2 separate regions of the Homo sapiens genome follow, and region 1 is linked to region 2. The links come from fine-mapping of genetic effects on gene expression. Tissue or cell type: sun-exposed skin. Region 2 holds a variant in brackets; the other region holds the start of a gene. All regions are shown on one strand. Distances are between the middles of the regions.

The links. PIP is the estimated chance that this variant, and not a neighbour inherited with it, causes the effect.
Region 1: TMTC3 starts here. The variant in region 2 is fine-mapped to the expression of TMTC3 in sun-exposed skin (GTEx, PIP above 0.99). The same link has a PIP of 0.9 or more in unexposed skin.

Annotation. Positions count from the first base shown.
Region 1 is chr12:88,140,064-88,144,310 of GRCh38, forward strand. TMTC3 (transmembrane O-mannosyltransferase targeting cadherins 3) reads left to right here and starts at 2,244. Exons shown (of 14, transcript NM_181783.4): 1 at 2,244-2,424. It overlaps CEP290 (centrosomal protein 290), which reads right to left and starts at 2,025. Exons shown (of 54, transcript NM_025114.4): 1 at 1,837-2,025; 2 at 1,143-1,271; 3 at 893-970. The coding sequence starts at 1,244. RefSeq lists enhancers at 1,865-2,304, 2,111-2,614.
Region 2 is chr12:88,105,665-88,109,911 of GRCh38, forward strand. CEP290 (centrosomal protein 290) reads right to left here. Exons shown (of 54, transcript NM_025114.4): 23 at 3,402-3,517; 24 at 1,332-1,434; 25 at 1,011-1,241. Among named protein-coding and RNA genes, the nearest start is that of CEP290, 34 kb to the right of the region's middle. The variant A/G (reference allele first, on the strand shown) is at 2,031.

The DNA.
Region 1 (4,247 bases), 34 kb after region 2:
ACTTAAGACTACAATTTCTAGATTTTTAATAGCATGAAACATTTTTGATTCTCCTTTTTACCTCAAGTCCTCAAGTCTTATATCCAGTAATGCAACATCTCCCTTTGTAATGTCTTTCCACTACTTTTTTTCTGTTCCAATTGCTATTATTCTAATCCATAATTTCAGGTTTAAACTCCGCTATAATGTGATGTCTACAAAGCTCCAATTTCCTTCAGTTTGTCCTACATAATATACTCAGTTTTGCCTTCTTAAGGTGTATTTTTGTACCTATCAATTGTGTTTCGAAAACCTTTACTGCCTTCTCAATTGCTGATAGCATAAAATACACCTTTAAGGCCCTCAACAACCTATCTCAAAGTACTTACCCAAGATTTGTTTTCTCTACAGTCTGCTACAAACTTGCTGCACCTTGTTTCCTCAAATATAAAGAATAAACATATTTCCTGTTCTCAGTATTTATTTATGGTAACCAACAGCTCTAGAATTCCCTTACTATCTTACCACTGCATTGCCTTCCACTTATCTAACACTACTCCTCAGTATTGATCCTTTGTGAAGTCTTCTGACATCTCTTAAATCATTTCCCCTCTTAACAAATCCCTATAGCAGTCATTGTCTGCATTTGTCATTTGGACCTCAAGATATATTTCCTTATGTTACTTTTCAACATACTCATTCTATTTCCCCTACACACCCTTTTAGAAACTTTAAGTAGAAACTAGCAATGTTTTATACACTAAAATACTTAATTCACATTTAAATATATTGCATTTTTTAGTGGTGATGTAGATATTACCAGGTATTTTCACAAAGATTACCTTATATAAGAACAGATTTTTATAGTTCCACTAATAGCCAAACCTATAGTTAAAACCTACTACATACAAACCTTCATTAGTGACTGAGTAATTCTGAAAAGGTGTATCACATTTTCTTGCTTTTCACTTTTTAGCTCATTTACTTCCACCTAAGTAAACAGAAAAGCAACTGTTTTATATTTTATAACCTTCAAGCAAAATATAAGAACACTTCCAGATTGTGACAATTATAGTTGTCCCTGAAAAAAATAAATTCATATTTTATTAATAAATTAATCATAAGTTAATGTATATATCTATTATTATTGACCAATTAAGCACCTTGGATAAGGAAATCAATAAATTATCTGCCAGTTCTTCTTGACGGGGCAGGTCATCTGGGTCAACTTTCATTATTTCTTTCCAGTTTATATTAGGTGGCATCTTGAATTCTTTCACTGTGCTCCACCTCTGTAACAAAACAGGTGTATATTAGCATTTTCAAGGTACACAGTATTATTGGTTTTCTAGCACCTTACATTTTTTGCAGATTATTTCATTATAACTTTCTGATGTTAGCAAAACAGACAATTGGGCCACAAAATAGACAAGTGGGCAAAATAGCCTTGATCAAAAATAGCAGTCGGCACAAACTGTCAGAGTGTCCCGGCTAAATAAAATGTGACGGCTTCCTTGCTAACACTAATCTAAGTTAATACTTAAGATTTCTGGATCCCTTCCTCCACACCCCTACCCACAATGCGCGCGAACACCCTAATCCTGGCAAGCGCGAGGGTCTGTGGAAGGCCGACAATCATCCCTGATTTGGAGAAACAGAATTGGGGCTGAAAAAAAACGCAGAAATTAACATTTGGAATGAGTGAAGTTGTGCGGCGGAAACTGGAACCGAAGCAAGGCAGTATTAGGGACCCGAGGCTGGAAGGGCGGGGTAGCTATGCTGTGGCACACGGGCCCTCAGGCTAAAGAACCTGAGCGTGGAGTGACTCGCTAATCCTGCTTACAAGGATCCACCCACCTAGACCAAGCCTGGCAACCAGCGGAGGCCTCTCACTACCGCAACCACCAAGCTGGACCCGGCCGCGGGCCCTGACAGATCCCTATCGCGGTTCCACGCGGACTCTGGGTCCAGCCAAATGGTCCCGAGCAAGCCAAAGCGGCAGCGGCTGCTAGGCGACACCATCCCCAACTCCGCCAAGGCCAGAATAAGATCCCGGATGCCAGGAGAGCCTACAGTTCACGACCGTGGGTGATGCTTTACGTTTAGATTCTCCGCCGGAGTCCCAGAGCTCGGTGTTCAGGATGATGAGAAGGCGTGGAACGAGGACTTCAAATCCCAGAGTGCAGTTCTGCCTGAGGCTTCTGCATGCTGGGAACTGAAGTCCCTGAGAAGAGGAGGTAAGGCGCTCCCGGCATGCAACGCGTAAGACTGCGACGGTACCGGGGCGGCGGGGAAGGACCGAGAGGCGGGAGGAGCAGCGGCTCAGGCGCCTGCAAACTGGTGGCCTGAACGAGGTAGACCATGACTGTGGTTTCAGTGGCGTCACTCGCTGGGCTGCTCTTCCTGAGGTTTTCCTAAGCCATCCCCTGGCGGAACCGCCCCCAGGTGAGGTCGAGCTGTCGGTCAGCATATTGGGAGGAATTGAGGGGAGCAGTCCTGGGTTAGAGAAGCTTCTGCTATTGGGGCCGTAGGGCCTGGTCCCATTCTGAAAAAGTGGGAACACCCTGCCTTCTCTTCAGGCGTTTGCAAGCGGCGTCCAGGGTAGTGCCTTCTGTAAGAAGGAAAAAACAAAAAGTTTTAGCCTTGTTTAGTATCAGAATCTGTCTTGATAGTTAGAGTGAGAGCCGCGCAGCCGTGATCCTCGTTTGGGGGCGAGCGAAGAATTGACAAGAGGTCTCGGCATCCCGACCCCGCCCGCCTTACCTGTAGCACCATTCCTTTCGCGGATCGTGGGGCTTGATGGTTGTGGAGCTAGTATAAAGTCAAGGCTCTAGAGAGGAGAGGTTAGTACTTGTCCGGACCACTGCCGGGGGTGGAGAGAGAAGGGATCCAAGGACTCACCTGTACTATTGTTGCCACTTGCTTGGTTACCTAGGGTGCCCTTCCATGAAAGCGCCTTCTCTGGTGTTTACCACTCTTACTCGTGCAAGTTTTGCTCATCCTGCTCGTCTGCTCACAATCATGCTGGAGTATGATACATCTCTACCTAACTTTCCTAAGAAGCTGTAGACTTAAATCTAAATGACATTTCCAACTATCTGGACCAGTGCTTTGTCTTTTTTTTTTTTTAAACGCTGCTTTAAAAAAAAAATTACTGTACTTGACAGTAAATTTTCCTTTCGAAAATAAGTAATGAGTTTCTTTTTAAACCCCCAATTTGGGTAAAATAAGTAGCTCAGTACAAAATAAAAAGATACTGATTTTGTGAGATGAATTTTAAAGACATTAGTTAGATTTATAGGAATGACAATTTTACTACTTTTCTGAAAGATTATATGCCAAATACTATTCATTATCTTGTTTATTCTTCCTTACAATCCAGTGAAATAGGTGCTTACATTGTCCTCATTTTCCATCTGAGTTAAGAAACTGAGGCTTGGAGAAGCTAAGTAACTTAAATAGTGTGATTGAACACAGATCTCTCTGGCTGGAGGACATATTCTTAACTTCTATACACCTCCTCAGACATTCTGGGAAACCAATATTTGTGAAGTGCTTGTTCCTCAATCTTGCTATTTTTATTAAATGTTATATTTTAATTTTGTAAGTGTTTACTCAATAATTTGAATTAAACATTCTTCATGTTCAGTGTTCTTAATTCATAATTTAACATGGGATGGTGTTTCTGGAAAGGTGTTCTGATCTGGACCCCAGGAGAGGGCTCCTGGATCTCGCCAAGAAAGAATTGGAGGTGCATACACCCCCATTGGAGGTGGTAGACTAAGGATTGTTATAGTTATTTCTTGATTATATGCTAAACAAGGGGTGGGTTATTCATGAGTTTTCTGGGAAGAGGGTAGGCCATTCCTAGATCTGAGTGTTCCTCCCCTTTTTAGACTATATAGAGTAACTTCTTCACATTGCCATGGCATCTGTAAACTGTCATAGCACTGGTGGGAGTGTCTTTTAGGATGCTAATGCATTATAATTAGTGTATAATGAGCAGTGAGAACGAGCAGACGTCCCACCTTTCTCGCCATCTTGGATTTGGTGGGATTTGGCTGGCTTCTTTACTGCATGCTGTTTTATCAGCAAAGTCTTTATGATCAGTATCTTGTGCCCACCTCCTATCTCATCCTGTGACTTAGAATGACTGACAGACATCCTGAGAATGCAGCCCAGTAGGTCTCACCCTTATTTTACCCAGCCCCTATTCAAGATGGAGTTGTTGTGATTCAAATACCTCTGACAATGGTAGGAATGAAATT
Region 2 (4,247 bases):
ACCAAAATATCACCAGTTAGCTAAATTGCTTAATAATGGAGGTATATGGTTATCTTTTCTTCTTCTTCTTCTTCTTTTTTTCTTTTAAGAGAGAGACTCGCTCTGTTATACAGGCACATAGGCTGGAGATCAGTGGCACATGATCACAGCTCACTGCAGCCCCCAACTTCCTGGGCTCAAGCGATCCTCCCACCTCAATGTCCCAGGTAGCTGGGATTACAAGCATGTGCCACTACACCAAGCTAATTAAAAACAAACAAACAAAAAAAAAAACATTTTTTGTAGAGACGGAGTCTCACTATATTGCCTAGGCTGGTCTGGGCTCAGGAAATTTTCCTGCCTGGGCCTTCCAAAATGTTGGAATTATAGGCATGAGCCACCATACTTGGTCTGCTTGTCTTTTCCTTAACAGAGTAATCAATTACAAAACATGGAACAACCAGATACTCTTGAAGTGATGCAATATAAAGTATAGAACACTACTTATGAAGTATTCTTGCCAAAAATGTTTAAACCTGAATGTAACTTAGGGTTCTGACCTAACTTTTAGTAATACAAGGGACACAGGAACAAGTAAAATGACACACACACAAAAGTTAGATACATCTTCAAACATTTTTTGGAGAAAAAGAAAACCAAGGGGATTCTATATTAAAAAGATTTATGAGATGTAACATCCAAATGCTTATTCTTTGATCAAAAAATGTAAAAAATGTGACTATAATCAGGGTATTAGGCGATATTAGAAAATTACTGTCATTTTGTTAGGTATAATAAAGTTACTATGGTTAGTTAAAGAAAAAAGCCTTTTTCAAAAGGGTACATTAAATATTTAGGGGAGGAATGTCTGCAATTCAAACATCCCACAAAAATCAGAAGAAGCAATTATGACAAAATGTTAATAAATGTTAACTATTAATTCAGGTGATGAGCATTATTGATACCATCCTATCTTCTGCATATTTGAAATTTTTCATAGTCAGAAAAAGCAAAATAAGAATCAGATGTACCTTAAATCTTTGCAAACACCCAATTTTTTCACAAACTTCAGCCTCCATTGACAACAATTCATTCTTTTGCTTCTCATTTTCTTTTCTAAGTTGTCGCTCCAATTCTACTAAGGTTGTATATTGCCTTATAAGTGATTTTTCATTCACTTGCAAAACAGTAATTTTCCTACTATTTTCTGCAAGTATTTTTTTCATTTCATCCGAATCCATCTGAAGAGCATTGAGCAAATTCTGCACAAAGACACATCCATATTACTTGTTGAATCTAGCTATCCTACTTTGTACAATATTGCATACTAATGTTAAAAATGTTTTACTTACATTATATTCTTTTACTTTTATAGCATCTTGTTGGACTTGATCCTCAAGTTTTCTCTTTTCCTCTTTTATTGTTTTAGATTCTGTTTTCCAGGTCTCCTTTTCACTAAAAACAAAACAAAACAAAAAGACAATACTGTAAACCTAATAAAATGTTTATAAGAAAAGATAACTTCAGATTATGCAAATTTAAAGTTTTCTCAACACAAGAGGTATCATAGCTATTCAGTATCTGAAAACACAAGAAGTTAAACTTTCATTTAAAAAGGGTTTAGCCTAGAATTAAAAATTTTTTAAATAAATGCAAGGCAACAAAGTTATCAAATTATTTTCATTCTTCCCTGATTCACCACTAAATGGGTTATAATATAATTGAAGCTGAATCTTATAAACATTTTATTGAACACAGAAAAAAAGTAGGAAAATAATACCCTATACTAATTCTAGAAATCAAATTCCAACATTCTGACCCCACTCTCAAATTTGGGTGTTAAATGCTTACAAAATAATTTGAATACAAACACATCTTAAGTCTAATTAAAATAGTGACCAAAGTTAATAACAGTATATTATATACTTTAAAATTGCTAAGAGAGTAAATTTTAAGTGTTCTTAGTGCAAAAAAAAAAAAAAATAAGAAGAAGTATGCTGTAATCCCAGCACTTTGGGAGGCCAAGGTGGGCAGATTGCTTGAGGCTAGGA[A/G]TTTTGAGACTAGCGTGGACAATATGGCAAAACTCCGTCTTTACCAAAAATACAAAAATTAGCCAGGCGTGGTGGCACATGCCTGTAATCTCAGCTACTTGGGAGGCTGAGGCAAGAAAATAACTTGGACCCAGGAGGCAGAGGTTGCAGTGAGCCAAGATAGCGCCACTGCACTCCAGCCTGGGTGACAGAGCAAGACTCTGTCTCAAGGAAAAAAAAAAAAAAGTATGCGAGGTAATACATATGTTAAGTAGCTTGATTTAGCCATTCCACAGTATATACATATATAGAACACCATGTTGTATAGCATAGTATATACATATATAGAACACCATGTTGTATAGCATAGTATATACATATATAGAACACCATGTTGTATACCATAAATTCTTGTGAATTTAAAAAGTAATTTAAAACATATTTATATATAAATTATTTTTTTGAAGTTGTGTAAGACACTGTTGTCTACACATGAGCATTCCACAAACATGTGTAATGTTCTTGGCATAAACCCAGTATAGCGGTATCATTCTCTTTGCAACTGAATGGTTCAGACTTGGACATGTGATCCAATTCTAGCAAATGAGATCGGAGTCAATGTCTGCCAGGTATCACCAGAAAAAAATGTTTATTTAAAAATAAAAGCTATGTAGAAAAAAATGCTCCTCTTCTTCAATGGGCACATCATCTTTCTTGAATTCATGCAGCTATTTTACAACCATCATAGGCGATAACAACAACCTTCAAATATGACCTGCCCTACAACTAGCTTTGTGGTTCTGGTTAGGTCAGATAATAATTATTCTTAGTGTTTAAATCACCTTTGATTAGGTATTCTAATTCCTATTAAGGAAATCATTCTATTGATTTAGATGAGATGACAGAAATAAGGAGAAATATGTTAGTTCCCTATAAACATATATGAACAATGATGATTGTGATGATGATGAATGATGCTAACAACAGCTAACATTTACAAACTGTTCATATGTGCCACACACTAGTCCGAGCATTTTCATCTAATAATTCATTTACGTTTTACAATAATCCTATGAAAAGGGTATTACTTACAAAGTAACTTACAGATAAGGAAACTGAGACACAGATAGGTAAGATGACTTGCTCAAGCTCTTACAAAAAGCAAACGTTAAATGACTCAAACCCAGGCAGGATAATCCCAGGCTTAATGTAATCATTAAGCTACACTGTCTCCATAAATAAGTTCCTAACAGTAGTTACCAGAGTAAAAAAAAATACAATTGCAAAGGAAGAAGAAGAAGGGAAGAACAAAACATAAATTATTCTTACGTTACTTTCACAATTAACAAGAATATACTGCAATTATATTTATAGTTTTGCTAATACCTATACCTTAGGTATTCTTTATACAACAAACTTTGTTGATGACGAATTACAGCAAATTTTCTGTTGTAATCTTCAAGAGAATCTTCTAAATTCTTTAACTTTTTTTCTTTATTTTCTAGTTCCTGAAAAGTGGTTTAGAAATAAGAATGCAAAAAAAAACACAATAGAATAAATGCTGAATTTGAAAGTATAAATTCATATTCTGACAACATTATAGGAAAGTTAAAAGTCACCAAATCTGTAAGCAACACAGATCATTTTTCCATGATATTTTGAACACTTTAGTTTAAGGCATAAAAAAAGAGTACTATACAACAGGTAAAGTTATTTTTAGCACACAAATTACCAGATTACAAAGTTTTATTAGATAGAATAGTTATAAACTCGCCTCTAGTCACTCGGCCACATACCCTCTCTTATGAACACATAATTTCATACCCTCACTCAAATTATCCTTTCCAATTATTTCATTTTAAAGATGAAATTGAAATTTAAATAACTTACTCAATATCCAAAAACTCATTAACACTACACTTGGCAATCATTTTTACCAAGTACATATGCTAGGCTTGTTGTCAGGTGCTTTCCATATACATGGATCCAACATTTGAGTTTGGGTCTGTCTGACTCCAAAGGTCTTGCCACGTTTATAGCTCTATACAGCCTTAGGATTGAGAGTCTAAGTACCTGTTTTGCCACTTTGGACAGCTTTTCAGACTCCCAGTTGGTACTCTCTAATCTACTACAAACTTCTGATATATTTCTTATACAAAGATTAAAAATCATGAATTTTATCTCAAAAAATACGACAATGCCATACTACCAATATTTGCTGATAGTGTTCCTATACCT